Homo sapiens: one gene and its partners. The protein of the gene in region 1 interacts with the protein of each later gene in a pairwise test. Each region holds a gene or a part of one and is shown in the gene's direction. Other genes may lie near its edges. The genes, in order: ESM1, ANKS1A, KIF1B, HDAC7, AQP1, BANP and FAM124B.

Evidence for each region.
Region 2: the proteins of ESM1 (region 1) and ANKS1A interact in a two-hybrid assay, tested with the Homo sapiens proteins (one large-scale study listed by BioGRID).
Region 3: the proteins of ESM1 (region 1) and KIF1B interact in binary tests that used the Homo sapiens proteins (3 or more experiments, as listed by UniProt).
Region 4: the proteins of ESM1 (region 1) and HDAC7 interact in binary tests that used the Homo sapiens proteins (3 or more experiments, as listed by UniProt).
Region 5: the proteins of ESM1 (region 1) and AQP1 interact in binary tests that used the Homo sapiens proteins (3 or more experiments, as listed by UniProt).
Region 6: the proteins of ESM1 (region 1) and BANP interact in binary tests that used the Homo sapiens proteins (3 or more experiments, as listed by UniProt).
Region 7: the proteins of ESM1 (region 1) and FAM124B interact in binary tests that used the Homo sapiens proteins (3 or more experiments, as listed by UniProt).

What each region holds. Positions count from the first base shown.
Region 1 is NC_000005.10:54,979,981-54,982,593, reverse strand, and holds part of ESM1 (endothelial cell-specific molecule 1 isoform a precursor), read left to right. Parts: intron 1-447; coding exon 448-597; intron 598-2,613. UniProt on the Homo sapiens protein: Involved in angiogenesis; promotes angiogenic sprouting. May have potent implications in lung endothelial cell-leukocyte interactions.
Region 2 is NC_000006.12:34,888,122-34,892,054, forward strand, and holds the start of ANKS1A (ankyrin repeat and SAM domain-containing protein 1A), read left to right. Parts: upstream 1-1,133; 5' UTR 1,134-1,281; coding exon 1,282-1,478; intron 1,479-3,933. UniProt on the Homo sapiens protein: Regulator of different signaling pathways. Regulates EPHA8 receptor tyrosine kinase signaling to control cell migration and neurite retraction.
Region 3 is NC_000001.11:10,374,570-10,378,069, forward strand, and holds part of KIF1B (kinesin-like protein KIF1B), read left to right. Parts: intron 1-284; coding exon 285-477; intron 478-685; coding exon 686-804; intron 805-1,975; coding exon 1,976-2,018; 3' UTR 2,019-3,500. UniProt on the Homo sapiens protein: Has a plus-end-directed microtubule motor activity and functions as a motor for transport of vesicles and organelles along microtubules.
Region 4 is NC_000012.12:47,785,563-47,788,903, reverse strand, and holds part of HDAC7 (histone deacetylase 7), read left to right. Parts: intron 1-739; coding exon 740-859; intron 860-1,094; coding exon 1,095-1,192; intron 1,193-2,200; coding exon 2,201-2,319; intron 2,320-3,018; coding exon 3,019-3,152; intron 3,153-3,341. UniProt on the Homo sapiens protein: Responsible for the deacetylation of lysine residues on the N-terminal part of the core histones (H2A, H2B, H3 and H4).
Region 5 is NC_000007.14:30,914,853-30,918,352, forward strand, and holds part of AQP1 (aquaporin-1), read left to right. Parts: intron 1-3,500. UniProt on the Homo sapiens protein: Forms a water channel that facilitates the transport of water across cell membranes, playing a crucial role in water homeostasis in various tissues.
Region 6 is NC_000016.10:88,006,934-88,010,433, forward strand, and holds part of BANP (protein BANP), read left to right. Parts: intron 1-3,500. UniProt on the Homo sapiens protein: Controls V(D)J recombination during T-cell development by repressing T-cell receptor (TCR) beta enhancer function. Binds to scaffold/matrix attachment region beta (S/MARbeta), an ATC-rich DNA sequence located upstream of the TCR beta enhancer.
Region 7 is NC_000002.12:224,381,653-224,385,107, reverse strand, and holds part of FAM124B (protein FAM124B), read left to right. Parts: intron 1-3,455.

The sequences.
Region 1 (2,613 bases):
ATAGTAAATTATCTGTGAATACAGTAGATTCAAAGATAGCATCACATTTTAAAAACTCTTTGAGGAGCTGATGCATATATGTCTGTTCAATTTCCCACCTTTGCTGAGCTGTTACAGAGGTCATCTGTGAGAATTTATTGGTATCTAAGCAGAACATCACCAGAATGAAGACTGGTCCAAGGAGACTGGCTGTGTGTAGCTGTCTTCAACTTAACTTTACATCACAACACTAAGCCCGAGGCATCCATTATCTGTTCTTAATGTGTGATTTCATATTTATGACTCAAAGTTTCAACTTTCAAATCCTGGGTTTGGAGAATTGGATTTTACTTTACAGTCAAGGTTCATGAGGTTGGTTCAAATCGCAAGGCTATGCACCCAGGGCTGTTAGGATGGAGACGTATTTACAACAAGCAGCGTCCTCTCCAACCTTTCCTTTGTCCCCAGACTGTCCCTACGGCACCTTCGGGATGGATTGCAGAGAGACCTGCAACTGCCAGTCAGGCATCTGTGACAGGGGGACGGGAAAATGCCTGAAATTCCCCTTCTTCCAATATTCAGTAACCAAGTCTTCCAACAGATTTGTTTCTCTCACGGGTAAGCACTGATTCTGGTATAAGCATTGGAAGAATAGTCTCATTTCAGTGTGAATAACTTAGAAAATATCTGTGAGTAGAATAAGATGTGGATTGGAATGATTTTATTTCCTTTGCTTTACTCAGGGGAACGGTGGGTGGTAGCTGAGTTTGGTTGCTGTTGCTGTTTTCTAAAAAGAGCCCATCAATAATTTTGAGGTTTACATATAATTTCTCATAAAGTTTACCTGGTTTAAATATGATTTATAGGAGGATAAATATGATTGATTACCAAAAATCTGTAATAAAAAATAACCAACTGAGATACACAAAGTTCTTTAAATTCTTCAGTGATCTGTTTTATATATTTACTAGACAAAACTATTTATCTCCCAACTTCACATAGAAAAAGTACTGTGAGGAATTTATTGGATAAGCTTTAAGAGTCAAGATAGAAAATATAGAACGTTTCTTTTTTTTAACCAAATGAAAGCATTTAAGTGTAATAATTCCAAGTGTGTGTTTTTATGGATTTTGGAGAGGATAAGAAATAGTATGTGATTGAAATTTTGGAAATGAATGAAACTGTAGTAATACGTGCTGCTTGTTAGTCCGTGTGTATTTCTTATACAGGTGTTAGAATGTGAGGAATACACAACCTATGAGATGGTGCTATGTACATATTTGTTTATTTTGTTGAATAGCTGGCCAGTACAGGAGAGTTCCATTAAACTGAAAGTAGCTCATTTAAAGCAACATACATCACTAAAGCTTAGGCCTCCATTGCACAGAATGGCGATTGTAGTTAATAATTCTTATATATTTCAAAATTGGTAAAATAATAAATTTTAAATGTTCCCATCACAAAAAATAAGTATATGAGGTGATGGATATGCTACTTAGTTTGAGTTCATCATTCCACAGTGGAGATATATATCAAAGTATCATATTGTACCCTAAATGTATACAATTATTATTTGTCAATTAAAAACTGTATTTAAAATTATAAAAAATAAATAAATAATAAGCCCAACATATAGTCACAGAGATGGCTAGTATCAACAAATGATATACTTTTTCCCACCACAACTATAAATAACAATTCAAGTCCATTTTATTTAGTTTTTGCTTTTGGTCTTTTGCATTTCAAGTTAATAAAATATAAACTATTTGGCAAAGGTGCTTGTTTTCTAATTTTACCTCCTTCTTATGTATGGGTCAACTAAACACATTAAAATGAAGCGGAAATATCGTGCTTTTAAGTGAATTATTAGTTTTAAGTATGGTGATGCCCATAACAATACTTACATTATAGGTTACACAAAAATATTTCCACATCAAAGTTAGGCATTGAGATTCTTATCAGAAATATTTGAAAAAAGCAGTCAGTTTCTCTCTTTTCTGACCTAGGGTATTTCCTTTCATTAGCTAAAGGTGCAACCAGCAAAAGATGATTTTTAGTGTGATCTTGGTAAACCTTAGTCAGGTTCAGGATGGAGAGCAGAAAACCCTAAGGACCTCTTGGGGAGGCTGCCTAGGGTTCTTTGTAGTCTACATGTGTCTTTGAGACTACATGAGACTTCCAGGTTCATGCACTGGAGTTTACAGGAGAAGGCTTGGGCTTCACTCCTGACACAGGCTTCACATCACCTCTGCACAAACCTGTTTGGGCCCAGCCTTTGAGAGCAGGCTAAATGGCTGCAAGCTTCACCAGCACTAGGACCCCCAGAGCACGAGCTTGTCTTCTCCAACTTTCCACCTGCTGGCTACAGCACTCTTGTCAAATGTGCTTCCTGTCCACAGTGTTCCACTTGGTGTTCTTTTTTTTGGCAGTGAGCTTCCCAAGTTGGGAATTCACAAGTAAGTTTTTGTGTACGAGGGTCTTGGGGGAGTAAGATCTGGAATGTTTCATGGACTTACACACATTCGTCTGCTGGGCCACGCTAATCTTCTTAAAGCATTCCACATCAGAATGTGCACTGCCAAAGCAAGCACACCTCACTACTCCTTGAAGTAGAAAATTTCATTTTAGCAAATT
Region 2 (3,933 bases), on another chromosome or scaffold:
GAGGACTCATTTTAACTTTGGTTTGGCGACAGTGGGAAGCGGGAAAATTGGACGTAAAGAGCTCAGACTATGGATCCTCCTCGCTAGGAAACCAGCACTTGTGAAGGAGCGCAGTTTTGTTTACTAAATAACTTTTTCCTTTTCGCCTGTCTAAAAATGCAATGTCAGTTAATCCCTTCGTTAACCCCTCAGAGTAAAGTTGGGGGACTGGGAGAAAACTCAGTTCCGTTGTATGGCGGTGTCGTGGAATGAGGCTCCCCGGGACTGGTAAACTTTCAGGCAAGGACTCAACCTTGTATATTTCAACTGGCCCGAAACCGCGGGCCTGTGTGTACATAGAATTGCTAGCATTTCCCCTCCATTCCGCAAGCACCTTAACAACAAAAAGTCATATAGCTCGAGCAGAATTTATCCAATTCATTTATTCATCCACAACTATTGACTGCCTACTTCGATTTAGAAACAGTGCTAGTACCAGGGAACAAAACACACATAGTTTCTACCCAATTAAATGATTTTTTTCAGTTCGCCAGTACTGAAGATTGAGGTTTGTTTTTACAAGTCTGACACTTTTCTATCAGTTTGGTTAATCTCATTAAAACTAAGAGGAAAGCCTAAAGAGAGGAAGGTGTCTCCTTTGAACGTTTCACTTTAATGAACTAGTTCACGTACTGGGAGGATGAAGTGGTGAGGATATTTCTGTTTTAAAATTTTCTTCTCTTCCCTCATTGAGATACGAGGGGGAGGGCGTTTTATTCACCTGGGTATGACTAGGTCCCCGCACCTATTACATATTTAATTTATGCGTGCTGAAAGAATGGACTTGGAAATGTAGGTGCGCGTTACATTTATCTCTTTGTTTCTACGCTGCCTGGACGAATTACCGTATTTCCTGTCCCAGGAGCTCCCAAAACCTTTGGGGAAGGAGCGCACTTCGGGAGGCGCGTACAGGTGGGCCTGTTTGTCCCTTTCCACCTGCATAATGGGGGCCCACAAGGCGCTGTCCCCATGCCCCGAGAGGCGTGTCTCGGCACAGCAAAGTCCACCTGCGCTGGTCCGCGGAGCCCCGCCCAGCTAGGTGAGCTAGGGGGCGGGGCGCGGGGGCGCGGTGACGCGTGACGCCGGATCCCGGAAGTGACGCGCTCGTGGGGAAAAGGCAGGGAGGGGGTGGTGTCCCCAGCCGGTTTGGGGGGTGCGTTGCCCGGAGACGGAAAGTTTGGGAGCCCGAGCAGGCTCGGCTGCAGCCTCGGGGAGGGGGTCCAGCGGGTGGCGGCCCTGGGGATGGGGAAGGAGCAGGAGCTGCTGGAGGCGGCCCGCACCGGGCACCTCCCGGCGGTGGAGAAGCTGCTGTCCGGGAAGCGGCTCTCCTCAGGCTTTGGGGGCGGCGGCGGCGGTGGCTCTGGGGGCGGCGGCGGCGGCAGCGGCGGCGGCGGCGGCGGCCTCGGCTCTTCCAGCCACCCCCTCTCCAGTCTGCTCAGGTGGGTACGCGCCAGGGCCGGGCCGCTGCCTGCAGACCCTTTCTCCCCCACCCGTCTCTTGGGTCCCCAGAGAGATCGGGGGTCCTGAGACTCGGGCGGGGTGGGCTTGTGGCGTGCCCGGGGCGAGGCAGGCGGCCCGCGGGCCAGGGTACCGGAGGGCGCGCAGGTCCGAGTCCACGCTGCTCCGGGCTCGCCTGGTCTCCCGTTCTGACCCGGCTGCGAAGAATGGTGGGAGTGCCCAGGTGGCAGCCTCCGCCGCATGGCACAGCCAGGGTTCACTCTCGCTCGCTACAGGGTGCCAGCTATCGTAGCTCACAAAAGCCAATTAAGAGCAAATATGTATATCTTATATATATATATATGAGATCTCCCTCACCTCCTGCAGAAACTCCTACGCCTTGTAGAATCTCGAGGCTCCTCTGGAGGAAATTCTATTGATTTTCTTCTCTGAGGAACTTGGAACCTTCCACCAGGCTACACAGGACCTCGCTTTATTTTTTTTTTTCCCTCGAGACGGAGACTTGTTCTGTCAGCCAGGCTGGAGTGCAGTGGCGCGATCTCGGCTCACTGCAACCTCCGCCTCCCGGGTTCAAGCGATTCTCCTGCCTCTGCCTCCCAAGTAGCTGGGATTACAGGCGCCCGCCACGACACCAGGCTAATTTTTGTATTTTTAGTAGAGACGGGGTTTCACCATATTGGCCAGGCTGGTCTCGAACTCTTGACCTCAGGAACCGCCCGCCTCGGCTTCCCAAAGTGCTGGGATTACAGGCGTGAGCCACCGCGCCTGGCCCCTCGCTTTTGTTTTATTAAAATTGCCTCTGGATGTATCATTTTCAAGATGTTCGTCTTTGAGCCTCTCTTGTGCTTGAAGTTCAAATTGTAGTTCCTTGTAGTGAACCTCATTGGATTAGTCTAAGTGGCATATGCAGGATTCATCCAGGGGCTTATTCATCTAGAAATAAAGGCAGAGAGACTTGTTTAGGAAACCGAAGGATGCTGTAAACTTTTCCAAGGTCTGTTGTTAAACGCTTCAATCTGGAGCTGTAAGGACCGAGGGAAAAACATCAGTTTTGTGTGGCTTCGAAGGGGGATTGGGGGTGCTTTGTTAGTGTGAGTTAAATGTGTTAGTTCAGCAGCGCTTTCATAGCCTGATTTCTTTTTCCTTCCTTGTTCTTTTGAGGTTTTTAAGAAGTGGAAGTTCATTTAGAAATGCCTTCGTTAGCTTTTGTTCCCCATTACTTTATGTAACTTCAGTTTGAGTGAGCTTGGACCATATAAGCCTAAGGCGCTAATAAATTGTTATTAATAGATATTAAGCACTGAGTACCAACCCAGGTCTTTACAGGAAGATTTTAAAAAGCAATATAAGTAGGTACTTAAGATTTGTTGAAGAAATAAAAGTATCAGTTGCAGGACAATAAATTTCTAAATAAATGGATGGTGGATGGTATTACTCGCTGTAATTGCTAGCAGCTCAGAGAACAGAGACATCATTTAGGGATGGAGTGGAAGTCAGGGCTTCCAAAAGGAGGGAGACTTAAGCTGGCCTTGAAGGATGTGAGGATTTGGGTAGGTGAGTTATGATGGGCATGTTTCAGGTGGGTACCCCATGATCAGAGGCACAGAAATGAGAATGGAGACTTATTTGGTGCTCCTTAGGCAACAGGAGAAGAACTTCCTGCCTGCACCCTTGAGAGGTTGGGCATAATAAAGGTAAATAATAATGGATGGGTATACTTCCATATATCATGTTTATATTCTCAGTCCCTAGATCAGTGCCTGACAACTTACAGGTGTTTAATAAATGTACAGTGAATGCATGAATTGGGTTTTGAATCTTACCTGGATTTGCCACTCTGCAGTTCTGATGTCTGAGAGGTGACAAGACTGTACAGGTTTGGAGATGCCTCTGTCTTTAATGAGTTGATGACATAGCATTTGGAGATTTTCCAGAGATATCTTAACCCTCAGCATATCCTGCTAAAGTGAGAAGTTTCTCATATCTCCCACCCTCAAACACAGGTCAAATTATTCTTTTTTTTTTTTGGAGACGGAGTCTCGCTCTGTCCACAGTCTGGAGTGCAGTGGCAGTATCTCAGCTCACTGCAACCTTCGCCTTCCTGGGTTCAAGCGATTCTCCTGCCTCAGCCTCCCAAGTAGCTGGGACTACAGGCAAGCGCCACCACACCCAGCTAATTTTTGTATTTTTTGTAGAGATGGAGTTTCACCATGTTAGCCAGGCTGTTCTCAATTTCTTGACCTCATGATCCGCCGGCCTCGGCCTCCCAAAGTGCTGGGATTACAGGCGTGAGCCACCTTGCCCGGCCTCAGGTCAAGTTATTCTTAGTGCGCTCACTCGGAGACTATTGAAATTCTGCTGAGGATTTAACTGCCATATAGTTAATATAGTTAAGCAAGACTAGGAAACCTGTTGAGCACAATGCTTCTACTTTGG
Region 3 (3,500 bases), on another chromosome or scaffold:
ATCTGTACTGTAGTCTGATGCAAGTTGAGTCTGGGGTGAGAGGGCCAGCCTGGGTTTCTCCAGTTGGGTCTCATAATGCATCTGCACCCTGGCGCAGCATGTTGCCATGGCACGGTTTCGCTTTTGCCGTATTACTTTGGCAGATAAGATTCTAGGCCAAATAGGTCATTTGCCTGTTTCATCGAATCTAAGGACTTGGCCTAAGTGTGGCGTATTTTGATGGTCCTCAGCACGATTATTTTCTTTTTGTGAGAAACTAACTTTTGTCATATTGTCGTTTTTAGCTCAGTGGTCTCTAAGAAAGGATACCTTCATTTCAAGGAGCCTCTTTACAGTAACTGGGCTAAACATTTTGTTGTCGTCCGTCGGCCTTATGTCTTCATCTATAACAGTGACAAAGACCCTGTGGAGCGTGGAATCATTAACCTGTCCACAGCACAGGTGGAGTACAGTGAGGACCAGCAGGCCATGGTGAAGGTCCGTCCTGCCCTGCCTTGGTTTCTTATTGCCACGTGTGCCCTTCTCTTTTGATTTCTGCACTCTCTGTTACGTGGTGTGAAATTTCCCTATTCTCTCTGGTTTTGAACTTCCTTTGTGAAGTGCTATATGCCTTGGGAATATGGCAAGGCAGTCCCCATTGCTGTCTCTGTAGTAACTTTCTTGTCTACCTGCATTTTTCTTTCAGACACCAAACACCTTTGCTGTCTGCACAAAGCACCGTGGGGTCCTTTTGCAGGCCCTCAATGACAAAGACATGAACGACTGGTTGTATGCCTTCAACCCACTTCTAGCTGGCACAATACGGTAAGAAGTTTTGTTGTTGTTGTTGTTGTTTTTGAGACGGAGTCTCACTTTTTCTCCCTGAAGTGCAGTGGCTTGGTCTTGGCTCACTGCAACCTCCGCCCCCTGGTTCAAGCGATTCTCCTGACTCAGCCTCCCCAGTAGCTGAGACTACAGGCACGTGCCACCATTGCCTGGCTAATTTTCGTATTTTTTGTAGAGACGGGGTTTTACCACAATGGCCAGGCTGGTCTCAAACTCCTGACCTCAAGTAATCCACCCACCTCAGCCTCCCAAAGTGCTGGGATTACAGGCCTGAGCCACTGCACCCAGCCTAGAAGTTGTTCTGTGTTTTCTTTCTCTCTTTGGCTTTTGGCTTCAGGAATATCAGGATAAATAGGAAAGGAAGAATTTTTCTTTTCTTTTTTCTTTTCTTGTTTTTTTTTTTTTTTTTTTTTTTTGAGATGGAGTTTTTGCTCTTGTGTGGCCCAGGCTGGAGTGCAGTGGCATGATATCGGCTCACCGCAACCTCCACCTCCCAGGTTCAAGCCATTCTCCTGCCTCAGTCTCCTGAGTAGCTAGGATTACAGGTGCCCGCCACCACACCCAGCTAATTTTTTTTTTTGTATTTTTAGTAGAGATGGGGTTTCACCATGTTGGCCAGGCTGGTCTTGAACTCCTGACCTCAGGTGATCCACCCTCCTCGGCCTCCCAAAGTGCTGGGATTACAAGCGTGAGCCACCACATCTGGCTTGAAAGGAAGTATTTTTCAAAATAAATTTAAAAGAGAGGAAGGACAGGAGTGTAAATTGGTTGTGGGGTGGTAATGAGGCCTCTGCATCTTGTAAGGCATTGTCATGTTCTGAACCACCAGGGATACTCTGGTCACACATGTGCACCAATTATTTTCCTTCTTTGTCTTTTTGTTCTCAAGAGTTCTAAAGATGGGGCTCAGGGGAGAGAGTAAAGGGAGGACAGTGAGAACCTTAATGGTCTCCCAACCTCCAGCCCTGTGATTCAGCCTCACGTTCTGAGGGCTTGTGTCACAGGGTCCCGGAGTAGACGGCTTAGAGGACTAGGCCTGCGGTGCCAAATAGGAAGATGCTCCAGGAGGGAGCCTCAGAGGGAGAGGACTGTGAGGGGACAAGACTTGTACCCAGACTTCTAATCCTACCTCCCCGTTTGTCCCCCATAGGTCAAAGCTTTCCCGCAGATGCCCGAGCCAGTCGAAATACTAAGTGACTCTGCCGAGTGCCCTCACTCGCCTTCGAGAGATAAAGAAAGCGTTACCTCTCATTTCTCTTTGTGATTCTTGACGGTGACTCTTGTATGTAATCCTGTGGCTTAACTACTTCTCCCTCCTTGTCCAGCACTTTTCTAGCTCTCCCGTTCCCCATCTCCATTGCTCTGTACTCTTTTCTTTTTTCTTGTGCTGAGAATCTCGTTAGTAGCATGTGGCCTAACAAAAGGAAAAAATGTTTTTAAACACACACACACACACACACACACACACACACATACACAGACAAAAACACAAAAACTCTGAGGGGATCTGGTGAATCTCCAAATTATTGTGGGTGTACTTTGGCTTCCTTTTGTATGATAGGTCCCCATCATGACCACCTCTGATGTCTGTGCTGCTGTCACCAGGCACCTTTGTTTTTCAAGACAACATACTTTTTTTTTCTTTTCTCTGTTTGTGATATCACTTTAATTTTTCTTGGGTGGCTTAGAGACTAAGGGAGGAGACATCTGGCCTTTTTAGAACCTGAGAGGAAAAAAAGAGTCTTTTTTTCCCCTCTGTCTCTTTTTGCCATGGCTAATCCCTGCATTTCCATTCAGGGAAAAGGTGGTAGTGAGCATAGAACTGCAACAGTTATATTCTGAGTCAAAGTTGGGGCTTTTTACGGCATAATTATGGAATTTTTATTTACTGGTAGAGAGGAGACGAGAGGCTTTTTCAGTGGGCCTGGGACAGTGGCTGCTCTTGACTTTGTGTGAAGGGAAATGCCAAGGATGCTTCTGGTGGACTTCAGGGGACCCCAGGGTTTGGCCGTGGGCCGTGATGGCAGCAGGCGGTGGGATGCTTGTAGCTCCTCACAGCAGGATTCCTGCCCACTGTTTTTTCTCTGTTGGGAGGGAAGCTCTTTTCTAGGAGTGTCTCAGTTCTGCTTTTGGCATTAGTGATGGTGGTGGTACAGTTGGAATTAGTGCCATGTCATACACAAATGTTCCACAAGGCGGGAGTGTTTCACTTTCTGGTGATAAACTTGATGGTCATTGTTATGATTAAGATAATGCCGGGCAGGCCGGGCACAGTGGCTCACGCCTGTAATCCAAGCACTTGGGGAGGCCGAGGCGGGCAGATCACGAGATCAGGAGTTCAAGACCAGCCTGGCCAATATGATGAAACCCCGTCTCTACTAAAAATACAAAATTAGTCGGGTATGGTGGCACATGCCTGTAATTCCAGCTGCTTGGGAGCCTGAGGCAGGAGAACTGCTTGAACCCAGGAGGCAGAGGTTGCAGTGAGCCAAGATCGCGCTATTGCACTCCAGCCTGGGTGACAGAGCAAGACTCTGCCTCAGAAAAAAAAAAAAATAATAATGCTGGGTAGTGACCTTGTGATTGTTACAGCTCCCTTTGATCAAAGAAATATAGCTTTCAGGCATAAACCTGGAAGTCTCCCTCTGAATCCAGCAGTTGTTTTCATTGATGCT
Region 4 (3,341 bases), on another chromosome or scaffold:
ACATCCAGACACTGATGGTTTTACACATGATGGATTTAATCCTGACTATAACCCACTTTACAGATGAAAGTGAGCACAGAGAGATTAAGTAACTCACACACAGTCATTCGTAAGTCATGAGATGGATTTGAACCCAGGCGGGTTAGCTCTAGAGTGCTTGCGTTTAACTGCTAAGCTATGTCCCTTCTGCACTGACAGCTGTGTAAGAGACATTTCTAAGCAGAAGTTGAGAGCGGTGGAGGACCTTTGCACACTTGAGTTCCCGCATGGTCCTGTGAGTCGAGTGTAGGGCCCAGCTCTCCCTACGAGGGATGGGGCTGGGCCTCGTGTACCTGCCCCTCTGTAACCGAGCTTGGTTTCTGATCTCCTCATAACTTCATGACTTTATGCAAGACAGAGTGGTTCCTGATATGTGTAACCCTGAACCCTTCCCTCTCCTTGCCACTAACCCCATGTCCACACAGTTACTCTCTCAGGTGGGCTGGCCTGAGATTGGGACACCTCCTCTCCTTCAGGATCTCATATTACAGCCAGCCCTGTCCAGCACAGAGAGGCCGAGGTTCAGAGCCGGGCAGTGGATTACGTGGGGCCACTCGACCGTGTGGCTTTAGGAACCCCAGGTTCCTGATCCCAGTCTAGGGTCCTGACCTCAGAATGGCCACTGACCTTGAAACCCTTCTAACCTGTCCTGGCCCCCATCTCTCTGCCTTCCCTAATCGCTGCCCGTCTCCCTACACAGGACGTGCACCATGGCAACGGCACCCAGCAAACCTTCTACCAAGACCCCAGTGTGCTCTACATCTCCCTGCATCGCCATGACGACGGCAACTTCTTCCCGGGGAGTGGGGCTGTGGATGAGGTAACCGCATGTCAGGGCCACATCTTCCAGCCTCATTGACCTCCTCCTGACACTTACTCTGCCTCTGTCATGACGAGCTGTGTGATCCTGGGCAGACTGCTGAGCCTCTCTGATCCTAAACTTCCCCACCTGGAAATGGGGAGGCTGGATGAGCTGGGCTGGCAGCTCTAACAAACTGGTGTTCCCCTTCTGGGACTCTGCTGTCCTCATGTCTCTCTTGCCTCCTGTTTTCCAGGTAGGGGCTGGCAGCGGTGAGGGCTTCAATGTCAATGTGGCCTGGGCTGGAGGTCTGGACCCCCCCATGGGGGATCCTGAGTACCTGGCTGCTTTCAGGTACGTGCTCTGGGGGCCCAGAGGGGCAAGTCCACCCTCTCCTGTCCCTTCTCCCAAGAGCACCAGGGGGGAGGTGATCAGTTGGATTGTCAGCCTGTCCCCACCAGTTCCTAGACATTGTAGGTGAACGCCAGTGAGAATAGGACAAACAGAGAGAAGAATGCAAAAGTCAAAGGGTGCTTTGCAAAGGCATACATTACCGAGAGCCAATGTCAAACTGATTGCTGGCAGGTGGGTGGTGGAGTGAGCAGAGCTGGCACATTTAGTCAGAGAAGGCTGCCACTCTATTTGGGAAAAGAGAATTCTGGAAATGGATCTTCAAACACTTTTCTGGAGTTATCTCCATGACAGCTAATTCTACGAGAGCCCTGGGCTGGAGTTCCTGGAGTCTTCTCAGAGCCCAGGGCTATGAAGAACACCCAAGCAGGCCCCAGAGTTGGATCAGGGGTAGAGGAAGGCAGCTGGGGGGGGGCCTGGAAGAGGGAGAGGATGAGAGAATGTAGCCAGGTGGCGCAGAACCTCAGAGGACCTAGTTGTCCCCTACTCAGCTCTCAAGTAGTGAGTAGCTGGGTGTGGTCAACTCAGTCCAAAGGACTGAGCACTTGTAGTCCCTGAAGCTTTGTGACCAGAGTCCATCTCCGCAAGGCTGTGAGATTACCCTTTCCCTGTGGCTCCGGCCACTGCACCCCACAGATGCTTGCATGCACACACACACATGCACACACACATGGTCACACACACTCCTCTTTCATTCCCTCTGGTGCTCCATCCTTGGCTCCTTTCTGCCTCTTGCTAGTTAAGTCCCCTAGGGGGCTGAGTCCTTAGGCTGTGTGTGCCAGGGACATGGGTGGCCAGCCAAGGTCAAGGAGGTCAGAGAAATCTGCCAGTTGTGCTGGGGCACTGGGAGCCTTGGAGTCCTAAGAACAGGGTGCCCCACCGCAAAGTTGGCAGGACCGCCCCTGGCAACCCTGCACAGTACGATGATCGCCACTTCTTGTGACCTCACAGGATAGTCGTGATGCCCATCGCCCGAGAGTTCTCTCCAGACCTAGTCCTGGTGTCTGCTGGATTTGATGCTGCTGAGGGTCACCCGGCCCCACTGGGTGGCTACCATGTTTCTGCCAAATGTAAGGGAGCCTCAGCTGAGGGGGACGTTAGGGACAGAGAGCCAGGCGGTGCGGGGAGTTGGGAGGCACTCCCAAGTCAGAAAGGGAAGGTGGCAGTGGCCAGCCCAGGGCTTTCAGCCTGAGGACTGGAGTATGGCAGCTGGTCCTGAAATTCCCCGGGATCTCCTAGCCGAGCACAGCCCAAGCCCTTTCTCAGGACCAGGCCGGTTCACCACGGAGGGCTTGACCAGGTCATACCCATGGGGACTTAAGTCCAGTAGGCAGGAAGCTCAGCCGTGGGACTCCCCACCACAGCTGGGTTGATTCCAGGTGGGCTGGCAGCTCCTCCAGAGGAAGGGGAGAGAGAAGCAGCACTCTCAGAATAGAGGGTGGCCACAGGGCCCAGAGTACAGAAAGAAGAGAGGGTGTAGCTCAGTGAAAAAGACACAGGCTAGAGTCAATGACCCAAGTTCAGGTCCTACCTTGCTGCCACTTACTAGCTGTGGGGCCTTTCCCAAGGCCCTTAACCTCCCTGAGCCTTGAGTGAAGCATACTAGTAGGTTTTGTACGACATTCAATGTGAAAGCACTTTGGAAATAGTGATTGATACATGTGAGTCATTCTTTATTAGGGAGGAAGCAAGCAGGGAAGCCACAGGGGTAGAGAACAGGGTCACCTCTCCACTCCCGCCCCTCCCATTTCTCCCCTCCCAACCTCTAGGTTTTGGATACATGACGCAGCAACTGATGAACCTGGCAGGAGGCGCAGTGGTGCTGGCCTTGGAGGGTGGCCATGACCTCACAGCCATCTGTGACGCCTCTGAGGCCTGTGTGGCTGCTCTTCTGGGTAACAGGGTGAGCCGTCTCCCTCCCCCATCCATGCTTCTGTCAGGCAGGTAAGCCCGGCTCTCAGGACTACCCAAGGAGCAGGCAGATGGGATGGGACAGGGTGGGAGTGGCCAAGCCTGAAACAAGGTAGGCGAAGCGGAAGCCTCTGTTCCAAGTTAGGTCCAGGCAGCATCTCCTGGCCTAGGTAGAGTGTGC
Region 5 (3,500 bases), on another chromosome or scaffold:
TTTCTCCTGACTGACTCAGGGCTCAGGATATGCCCTAGAGAGACCGTGGGCCTCCGTCCAGCCTGCAAGGTCCCGGCTAGTTCTAAGAGCCAAATACCAATTTTGGCTAAGGGTGAGAGGCTCTGAGGCTGGGGTGGACACTCTCACCTGTCCCTGTCCTAGCTCAGCCACTAACACCATGTGGCATCACACAACAGACTGGCCTGTGTGGCCCTAGTTCCTGTCTATGAGATAGGGACATAGCAGGGTGTGGCTGGGCTCTGAGAAGTAGGAGATGCTGGTGGACTCAGGATTCCTGGCATTTGCTGGCTTTTTTCATTCTTCTGCTGTCTGGTCTGCTCAGCCGGCTCCCTGCAAGCATGACCAGGGACTGCTGGGTGCTCAATGCAGGGCTGGGTTAGCCCGGCTCCCTCCCGAGAGAAGCCCACAGCCCTAGGTCAAGATAAGCCAGTGCCCAGCTGCCTGTGATATGAAGCAGGAGGCAGATGCGATAAGAGGTGTCAGGGCGGGCCCGGGAACTTTTGAACTTAAGGGGTGGGAGGGCCAGGAAGGCATCAGGGAGGAGGTTTCGTAGGAGCCTGAATGTGGAGACACTGCAGAGGGAAGGGGCAGAGGGACTGTGTGAGCAAGCACAGGCTAGGAGGAGGTGAGGGCCGTGGTACGGGAGTTGTTGGGTATGGTCAGGCTGGGGGTGCATGGGAGGAGGGTGGTGAGGGCTCAGGATTCGGGCCAGGGGCTGCATCCGGGGGAAGGGGTCTGGATTCCCAGAGCCTGTGATTTCAGCCCGCTGGGCTCAGGCAGAGGGCAAAGCTACCCTCTTCGGGGTCTTCTCCCAGCCCTGCTAATTCCAGGCCTGACTGCTCAAGAAGTGTTTCTACCTGCAGCATCAGGGGCCTGACTGAAGCCCTAAGTTCTCCCCTTTATCCCGTTTTTCTGGGCTTCAGTTTCCCCAGTCATAGAGTGAGAGGCCTCTTCATGCCACCAGTTCTCCCGGGGGTGCTGCTGCCTCCTCCAGAGCTCAGGGGAGGGATGGGGAAAGGAAGGCAGAGTTTCCATGTCCCTGCCCAGCCCGTCCTGCCCAGGGAGGGGCTGGGGGCTGGGTGGTGATGCCACATCTGGGACATATAATTACTGTTTCCGCCAGCCCCAGATGAGGGGGAGGGCACAGAGATGGGGAGCTTTGTGGTGGAGACTTCCCTCACCATGGAAAATCCTGACGCTGCTTCCCCTTTAGGGACCTCAGAACAGCCCAGCCGGTCCCAGTGTTGCCCACCCTGATGCTTGGCCCTGACTGGGATTTGCCCTGGGAACTCTGAAGGGGCCATGCTTTGAGAGGGGACACGGCCTCCTGGGATACCTGTCTGAGGGGCTCACCCCCTGCTCACCACTCCCAGGCCACAGCCTCCTGTCACACCTTGCCTTCCCTTCTCCACCCCAGGCAACCTTCTAGCAGCATGAAGTGGCCATTAGCTCACTGCAAGCCAATTCCAGATGGTACCCCCACTTAGTCTAGGGCCCCCACCCAGCAGGGGCCATGGCCCTTACCTTCTGGAAGCACCAATGAGTCTGGAGTCTCCTGAGTGGCTGGGATCTGAGCCCTCACACCGGGAGGTGAAGGCAGGAAAATGCTGTCCGCGAGGCCCTGCAAGTGGCCAGGATCCCCTCAGTCAGGGCTTCCCCATGGGGATGAGAGGGGCTCCTTGCCCACATGGAGTGGTGCCCAGGGGGATCATGAGGGGCTGTCTTCACTCAGCCAGGAGCTACAGTTCTGTGGGGTGGGCAGACTCTGAGGCTGAAATCTCCAACTTAAAAGATATCCGGAAAGGCCGGAAAATGCCCCCGGCCCTTCCAGCAGCTCCTTTCAGTGCCTGCAATCTCGCTGTCAGGGCCCCTTGAAAGGCAGATTTCTACTCAGTGTAAAGAAGGTTGTTGTTGATATTGTTGTTGACACGAAGAAGGGGCTGTCTCTAAGTCAATAAGCTCCCTGCCATTAGGGGTGTGCAAGTAGATGCTTTCTGGTGAGGAGGCTGCTTTGGGGGTGCTAGTCTATGCGGGGGTCCAGTGGGGTGGGTGACAGGTTCTGCAGCATAGGCTTTGTGTCATGCTGAGATCAGCAATTCTGATGGCCTGCGGGGGATCCTGTGCTTAGGTTTCTGGATCTGGGGCTGGAGAGTGACCACCCCGATGTGAGGCAGGAGGCACTTTTGGAGACTGCGGGGGCTCGAATCTGGGCCAAGGCCTCCATTTTACTGATGGGGAAACTGAAGCCCACAGAGGCGTGGAGACTTGTCAAGGTGGCACTGCCTCCTAGCCCTTGATTATTCCTGCTGCTCCAAAGTGTACACACATGGCACAAACACAAACATGCACACACATGTGCTCTTACGTGGAGGACACACACACATGGTACACAAAGCACATTCTCAAGACTGGGTGGTCCCACTCAGACTCTGGGACCCAAGGAGGGTTGGGCGGGGATTCCTCAATGGAGCCTTTTCCTCTCCCTGCCCTGGAGTTAGGAAAAGAAGGAGGGAGGGAGGGAGGAAGCCATTGCTTTGTGTATTGTTTCTTGTCAGGAAGATGAAATGGCTTCTGGGAGCAAATAAAGGCCTTGTTGAGACCTGCTGCTTTCTCACATGGGGGGCTCATTTTTTTCTCTTCTCTTCCCTCTCTAGCTGGTAGTGGCAGCTATGTGGGTGTGTGACACAGGGAGACAGTGAGGCACCCAGAAGTGCCATCAGACATACCAGTGCAAACACACAGCACAGCCTCCAGGACCTCATGTCCTGCAGGGATGCCTGTATGATATAGCTGTTCCCAGGGAGGCCGAGGCACTTGGTCAGTACCTCATCAGTTGATGAAAAAGAGTGTGCATTCTCTAATTCAGGGGTACAGGGTTTTCATATTTTTCTGAAGTCAAGCTTGTTAATTATGGGGTTCAAACCCTCCCTGATCATGTTATTGGTAGTTTTCGGCTGCTTCATTTATTCTGTACATTTCTAATAGAAGATTGTTAACATTTTTCACTCTGGTGGTAGGGTGATCCAGTCCTCCTTGTAATTTTGTCAATTTTCCCCTCATTTATTTTTAGGCTATGTTGTTTGGTGCATACAAGTGGGGGATTTTTGCAGTTCCTTTATAGATTTTTATTTTTTTTTTTGAGACGGAGTCTCACTCTGTCGCCCAGGCTGGAGTGCAGTGGCACCATCTCGGCTCACTGCAAGTTCTGCCTCCCGGGTTTATGCCATTCTCCCACCTCAGCCTCCCGAGTAGCTGGGACCACAGGCCACCACACCCGGCTAATTTTGTTTTTGTATTTTTAGTAGAGACGGGGTTTAACCGTGTTAGCCAGGATGGTCTCGATCTCCTGACCTTGTGATCCACCCGCCTTGGCTTCTCAGAGTGCTGGGATTACAGGCGTGAGCCACCGCGCCTGGCCAGTTCTTTTATAGATTTTTAAAATGTAATTATTGTGTAATAAACCACTTACAATCTAACAA
Region 6 (3,500 bases), on another chromosome or scaffold:
AGAGACTCTGTCTCAAAAAAAAAAAAAAAAAAAAAAAGATAGTGATACAGTATAAACATGAAGATTAAAGGGAAAATAACTGTGATCCCACCATTCTGAGATCTCTAAACCTTTTGGGGTTTTTTGGTGCACATTTTATGATTTTATAACTCACTTCTTTCCCCTACACAGTAGAAATCTTTCCACGTTAGTGCAGATGGACAGAGTCATTTTTAGCCAGTTTTGCTTATTTCATCAGGTCTGGATGCTTTCCAGGGATGGCCCCCTCTAACCTTTCGTTATTGAAACTAGCATTGGCCTGCTGTGTTTTCATGTCTCTTGGATCAGTGTCTGGACGTGGGCTCTCAGAGGCAGGTTGCTGGGCTAGAGGACGCAGCTTCCACGGGTTCCATGGCACAGGATGCATTGCCCATTTCCCCCGAGATCTGGAAGGATGTGAAGCTGTTTGTCCTACTTGGACTCCTAGCGGGGGCCTCTCTCCTGCAGGGCTCTGAGGTGCCCTCCCGCCTGGCCCTCGGCCTGCCCAGTGTGCCTTTCAGAGCCGTCTTCCCCTGAGAGCCTCTGTGTGCCCTTCATCCTGTCACCGTAAGTGACCAGATGACTGTCAGTGACTACAGCGTGGAGAAAAGAAAGAACCAAACAGACTTAGCTTTGTGCGTGGAGTTGTAAAGCATGTGTTTTCCTTGCTTACTAGGAAGAACTCAGTTTTTCTGCATCTGCGTCTGAGTTGTTGATTTTTCCTAGCAACTCGATGTTGCTTTGTCTAGTGAACAAAGGCTTTCCTGTTAGGAAGACTCATTACCGTATCTGAAACATTGAAAACAATGTCTTCCACAAAAATTGCTTTTACCTCTAATACAAATTGCTAGGATTCAGATGGCAGAATGGAGGGAAGAGAGAAAGAGACGTTGAGTTGATCTTTTTTTTTTTTCCAAGTTGAGATCTAATTTATATACCATAAAATTGACTGTTTTAAAGCATACGTCTCAGTTGTTTTTAGTATATTCTCAAGGTTGTACAGTCATCACTTCGGACTAATTCTAGAATATTTTTTATTACCCCCAGAAGAAGCCCTGTGCCCATCAACAGTCACTTTCCATTCTCCCAGCCTCCAGCCCCGGCACCCAGCTCATCTCCGTCCTCGTGGATGTGCCTGTTGTGGACCTTGACTCTAAATGGAATCCTGTGGCATCACCCACATTGTAGCTTTTGCCCAGTGCTTTGTTCCTTTTCATGGCTGCGTGATGTGCCGAGGTATGGATGGCCCTCATTCTGTTGATCCATCATCAGTTGATGGGCATCTGGGTGGTTTGCACTTTTTGGCTGTTGTCAGGAATGCTGCTGTGAACGTTGAGGTGCAGGTTTTTGTGTATGTATTAATTGCAGGATCAGGGCAATGGAGTTTTTCACACATGAAATTTGAGGAAAGGAGGGATGCTCCTGATTTCATTTTCATAGAAATTGAAAATCACATTGCAGTAACGACAGACTAATTGTTGTAATTATTTTTGGATGTGGATTTTGTATAAATCCCCACATAGATCTGGCCACCCCCTTCAGGCCTGATGTTTGTTTGATTGAAACTGTGTTAGCTAAGGCAAAAAAACTTGGTAATTCTGGGGAGTCCAGGGTCATAAAAACAAAAAAATCTAAATGAACTTATGAGACGATATCAAATTTGGAGCTTACTTAGTATTGATCTGTATCTATAAGGAAAAATACAAATTTTCTTTGTGTCTGAGTTTAAGTTTTTTTGATGTTTTGTGTAAGACATTTTTCTTTAGCTAGGCTTTGAGCAGAGTTTTATAGCCATCTTTACCACTGATTGTTCTCATCAAACATAATTTTGCTGTACAACACAGGTTGTTAGGATTGGGGTGAACTGCAGAACTTTTTCTCATCTTAAATTTGACTTTATTTTGAAGGAGAGGTCATCATCCAGAGCCATTCTGTTTTCTCATCCCATTAGGAGGAAACATTTTTTGTAATAAATCTGTTTCACTGACTGTCCTTGGGAATGTATATCCCAGTGGGGTCGGTGTTATGAAAATATCTGCTTGAGCTGCCTTATTTGGCATAGTGGCTTGGTGAAAATGAGGAAGTCACCTTTAAATGATTGCTGTGTATGTAAATGTTGGGAAAATAGCCAATCCATTAATGTCTCTTATGTCAGATTTAATCTCAGCCCGTAGTGGCGTCCTCTCTTCAGCACTTCCATGGGGGGTGCGAATGTGCCGAGAATGGGGCCAGCATCTTCCTGCCTGTGGCCCTCTGTCCCAGAGCACCTGGGCAGGTGGTGAATCAGCGAGTTTCTACGAGGGAAAGCATTAGGAATATGGGAAGTGCTAAAGGGGGTGTGCTTGTCTTTCTATTTAGTTGTTTTAGGCCCTGATAAGAAATAGGAGCCGCAGGAGACAGATTGTTCTTAGCTTCTTATTTAAGTATTTAAGTGCCTTAAGTCTTAGAGAACCACAGATTTCAAAACGGTTATTTCTTAAGAATTCCAAATGGCTTGTGTGAATTGACATGCTGTTTTGTATCAAATTTGGAGTCAGTTTATTGTACTGCAAAGATACCATATCATTTTATTCTAGTTTTTTTCACTTAGGTAATTCCGTTTGTCATTACACACGCTCCACTGGAATAAGAAGGATGGTAACTCTCAGCTATTGAAAGCAGGGAACAGTAGACTGTGTCTCATTGGAATAAGAAGGACGGTAGCTCCTGACTGTTGAAAGCATGGAACAGTAGACTGTGTCTCATTAGAATAAGAAGGACGGTAACGCTCAGCTATTGAAAGCAGGGAACAGTAGATTATGTCTCATTAGAATAAGAAGGACGCTAACTCTCAGCTATTGAAAGCAGGGAACAGTAGACTATGTCTCATTAGAATAAGAAGGACAGTAGCTCCTGACTGTTGAAAGCAGTGAACAGTAGACTGTGTCTCATTAGAATAAGAGGGACTGTAGCTCCTGACTGTTGAAAGCATGGAACAGTAGACTGTGTCTCATTGGAATAAGAAGGACTGTAGCTCCTGACTGTTGAAAGCAGGGAACAGTAGACTATGTCTCATTGGAATAAGGACGGTAGTTCCTGACTGTTGAAAGCAGGGAACAGTAGACTGTGTCTTCATTCTTGTGCTTGCCTTTTGTCAGTAGTTTTGGTCTTGGTGTGCTCATAGCTTTGTTTTGTACTTGAAAGTGTGTGGGGCCTCATCATTCAATGACTAAGCTGCCAGCTGAGTTAGAGAAACAAGTTGAGCTAAAATGGACCTAGCATGGGATCTGTTTGTCCATTAAGGGATTTAGTTAGGTTCTTAATCAAGAGTTTAAATTTCTGCTGTGTATGCATTTGATAATTCTTACAAAACGTGACTGATCCTATACATAAAATGTTAGGTACTTCATTTCAGTGGGGGAAGGATTGTGGTTGAATTCTAATTGAATTATTGCCAGGAATTGGTCCCATGGACTTCCCAGGCAGTAGAATGACTTACGTGG
Region 7 (3,455 bases), on another chromosome or scaffold:
GGGTAGAGAAAATAAGGGGAGGTTTGTAGAAAAACATAACTACACAAATTTTATATACAGGTTTGACAGTGAAGGGGAGGACAGAGAAACCTGGAGGGAAAGAGAGGGTGGAAAGAATGTGTTTTTCAAGACACGAGACTTGAACAAGTTTAATTGCTGTTGGAAAGGAATAGGCAGAGAGAGAGAAAGAGAAGGAGAGGGAGAGAGATTAAACATCCAAGATAAGAAAGTGGGAAAAATGAATAATTGATAGGTCAGGGTCACCAAGAAGGCGGGAGGTGATGGGAGTCTTGGCCCAGGGACCGGTCACTTTCACCTAGAGAGAATGGTGAAGCTGCAGGTAAGTTTCGCGGTAGCAGTGAGAGTGTTGCTAACTGGTGACAGCATCTGCTTCCTTGATAATCTGGATGGTGAGACCACCTGATGAGAGAGAGTGGGGGCGATGGTGCTGCTGAAGATTTCAGGACAGTTTTGAAGGTTTGAACAGCTGCTGGGTGAATGGAGAGAGGTGACTAAGGAAGCAGGCAGACTGGCGGGTAGCCTGGGAGAGGCCGGAAACCACGCCATCATGGGGCACCCATTTCACAGACCGATGTGTTTCTGTGGCATCCTGAACACATGTTCAGAAAATGTGGGCAGGTAGATGGATGAAAGGTGGGGAGATTTTGTGGGAGTCTGTGACAGAATGGGAATAGTGAGGGGAGTTGGAGGTATTGGTGAAGAAATGGTTGAAGTGATAGTCTTTGGACTCAAATTGACTCTGAAAGGCAGTGTGGATGGGAGGGGCTGACAGGGAGAAGCTGGGGATTGGGAGTGTTGATGTTGAAGAGCAGATGTGATGGGGAATTGAGTGCCGGAGCCCATGGCCTCAGAATGCCTGGCTTAAATAGAATCTTTCAAAGATGGGACATTTGCAGGTGGAGAAGGCCCAGTGGAGGGGCTGTGGGACTGGGTGACAGAGGGGAGTGGAGGGGTGAGCTGGGCTGGCCCAGGAGGGCGCTTCCTGGCTGCCCTGAGATGTCTCGGCACTGGTTGGGGCTTCAGGACCAATTTCATTATGATCTGACATTGATTTAGATGGCAAGGGGCGATTACTCAGGCTTCTCTCTGTGTTCACAGTTGCTAGAGAATGAAATACAAGCCCCAGAGTCAAAGTTATTGATTTCTTTCTCCAGATTGGATAATCTAATATCAACCCTGAACCATTTCTCAGTATGGAAATATCCATGCCAGTTTCCATTTCTAGAAGAAAAAGATGTCATTGGGTCAATTAAAAAGGTACATTATGATACAAGGGTACAGTGTCAAATGATTCTCCAAGAGGCAATGATGGCAGTTGGCCCTTTGAAGGACTAAGGGAGTTTGTTCTCCAGGGGAAGGGAAACCCCAGCTGACATTTCGGAGATAGTATTTTTTCCTCCTGATTTTGAAAGGATAAGCAAATAGTCTTCATTGGAAAGTGAGAATTTGGGGGTGATTTGAGGTTGGGATAGGGAGAAGGCTTTACTTTTTATTTTATACATTTGTACAATGAAATTATTTTTATGGTGATAAATTACTACTTTTATAGTAAGACTTTTTTAAAAAAACAAACAGATGAAAAGGAAAGAAAGGAAAGGAAGGGCAGGAGGAAGGAAGGAGAGAAGGAAGAAAGGAGGGGAGGGAGGGCGGAGCTGTGGAATTAGAGCAAAGGGAAATGTAGAGAGAGATAGCAAAATGAAATTAGGCAAAGAATTTTTCAGAAATATGGAGGAGGAGGTCGGGTGTATGTGATAAGAAACAGACTCACAACGACCGCAAGTTAACTGACTACTCGAAGCCTAGCTTTTCTGGGTCCATGGCAGTAGTTCCGAAACTTCGCTGCACATTAGAATTACTGGGGGAGATTTATCAGCTCTGACAGCCAGGTGTACTCTGACCTGATGAAATCAGGAGGTCATGGGCTGGGAGCAGGCATCATTGTTTTTTAATGATCCCAGGATGTTCCCTTGTGCAGCAAAGTTTGGGAACAGAAATTTCTCCTATGGGTTTGCATAAGGACAGGTCCTTCGGTGCAGTGGGCATCCCTTCAACAGTGTCGCCCCTAGAGAGAGTATCTGATGCTGGTGGAAGCTCTCTTCAACACACTCTGGGGCACTGCACTCAGCTGTGGTTCAGTGCAAGCACATCTGCGATAGGGGTTTCAGGTGTGTGTGGCTCTAATGAACTGGCTTGGCTCAGGGGTAGAATTTAGATATTCTAGAATAGTGGTTTTCAAGCTGGTTCTGTGAAGCCCTGGGGAACTAGAGAGGGGGTCCCGTAGGCAGAGGCTACCCTCTGTACGTCAACCAGGGCTGCGCTAATTAGATTGCTTCATATTTTGGGCTTCCAGGTAAGAAATTGTTTGGAAAAAAACTTCTTAAGATAGAGAGATGGCTCACTCCTGTCATCCAGCATTTTGGGAGGCCAAGGTGGATGGATCACCTTAGGTTGGGAGTTTGAGACCAGCCTGACCAATATGGAGAAACCTCATCTCTACTAAAAATACAAAATTAGCTGGGCGTGGTGGTGCATGCCTGTAACCCTAGCTACTAGGGAGGCTGAGGCAGGAGAATCACTTGAACCTGGCAGGTGGAGGTTGCAGTGAGCTGAGATTGCGCCATTGCACTCCAGATTGGGCAACAAGAGCAAAACTCCATCTCAAAAAAAAAAAAAAAAAAAAAGACAGGGAATCATTGATCTAGAATAGGGCTTGGTCAACTGTGGCCTGAGAACTAAAAATAGTTTTCTATTTTTATATGGTTGGAAAAAAATTCATGACACATAAAAAATATGAGATTCAAATTTCAGTGTTCATACATAGAGTTTTACTGAACACAGCCATTCATTTATATATTGTCTATGGCTGCTCTGCAGCAGAGTTGGATAGTTGGGATAAAGACCATATGGCCGGCAAACCCTCAGATATTTACTGTCTGGCTCCTTGCCGAAAATATTTGCCAACTTCTATTCTAAAAGAATCAGTGGAAGTCCTTGTTTTTTTGTGTGTTTGTTTTTGCAGCTTGGTAATATGCACCTCACCATTTCTATCAGAAAATTGAGATGTACTCTGCGTCATCTATACAAACAAATATGCTCTGTGTGAGTGTGTGTGTGTGTGTATGAGAGAGAGAATTTACTGATTTCTAGACCTGTTTTCTCACTGTCCTCATTTCTGCCTTCTTGCCTTGTAAGATAAATATGTATCATTATTTTTTCTCCCTTGAAATAGACCTTATTTTTTACAGCAGTGGTAGGTTCACAGCAGAATTAAGCAGAAAGAACAGAGAGTTCCCATATACAACCTTCCCCCCGAAAAGAGCCTCCTTTCCTGTCAACATCCTTTATCAGAGTGGTACATGTGTTACAACTGATCAACCTACAACGACACATCACCATCACCCAAAGCCCATAGGGTACATTAGGGTTCATTCTTG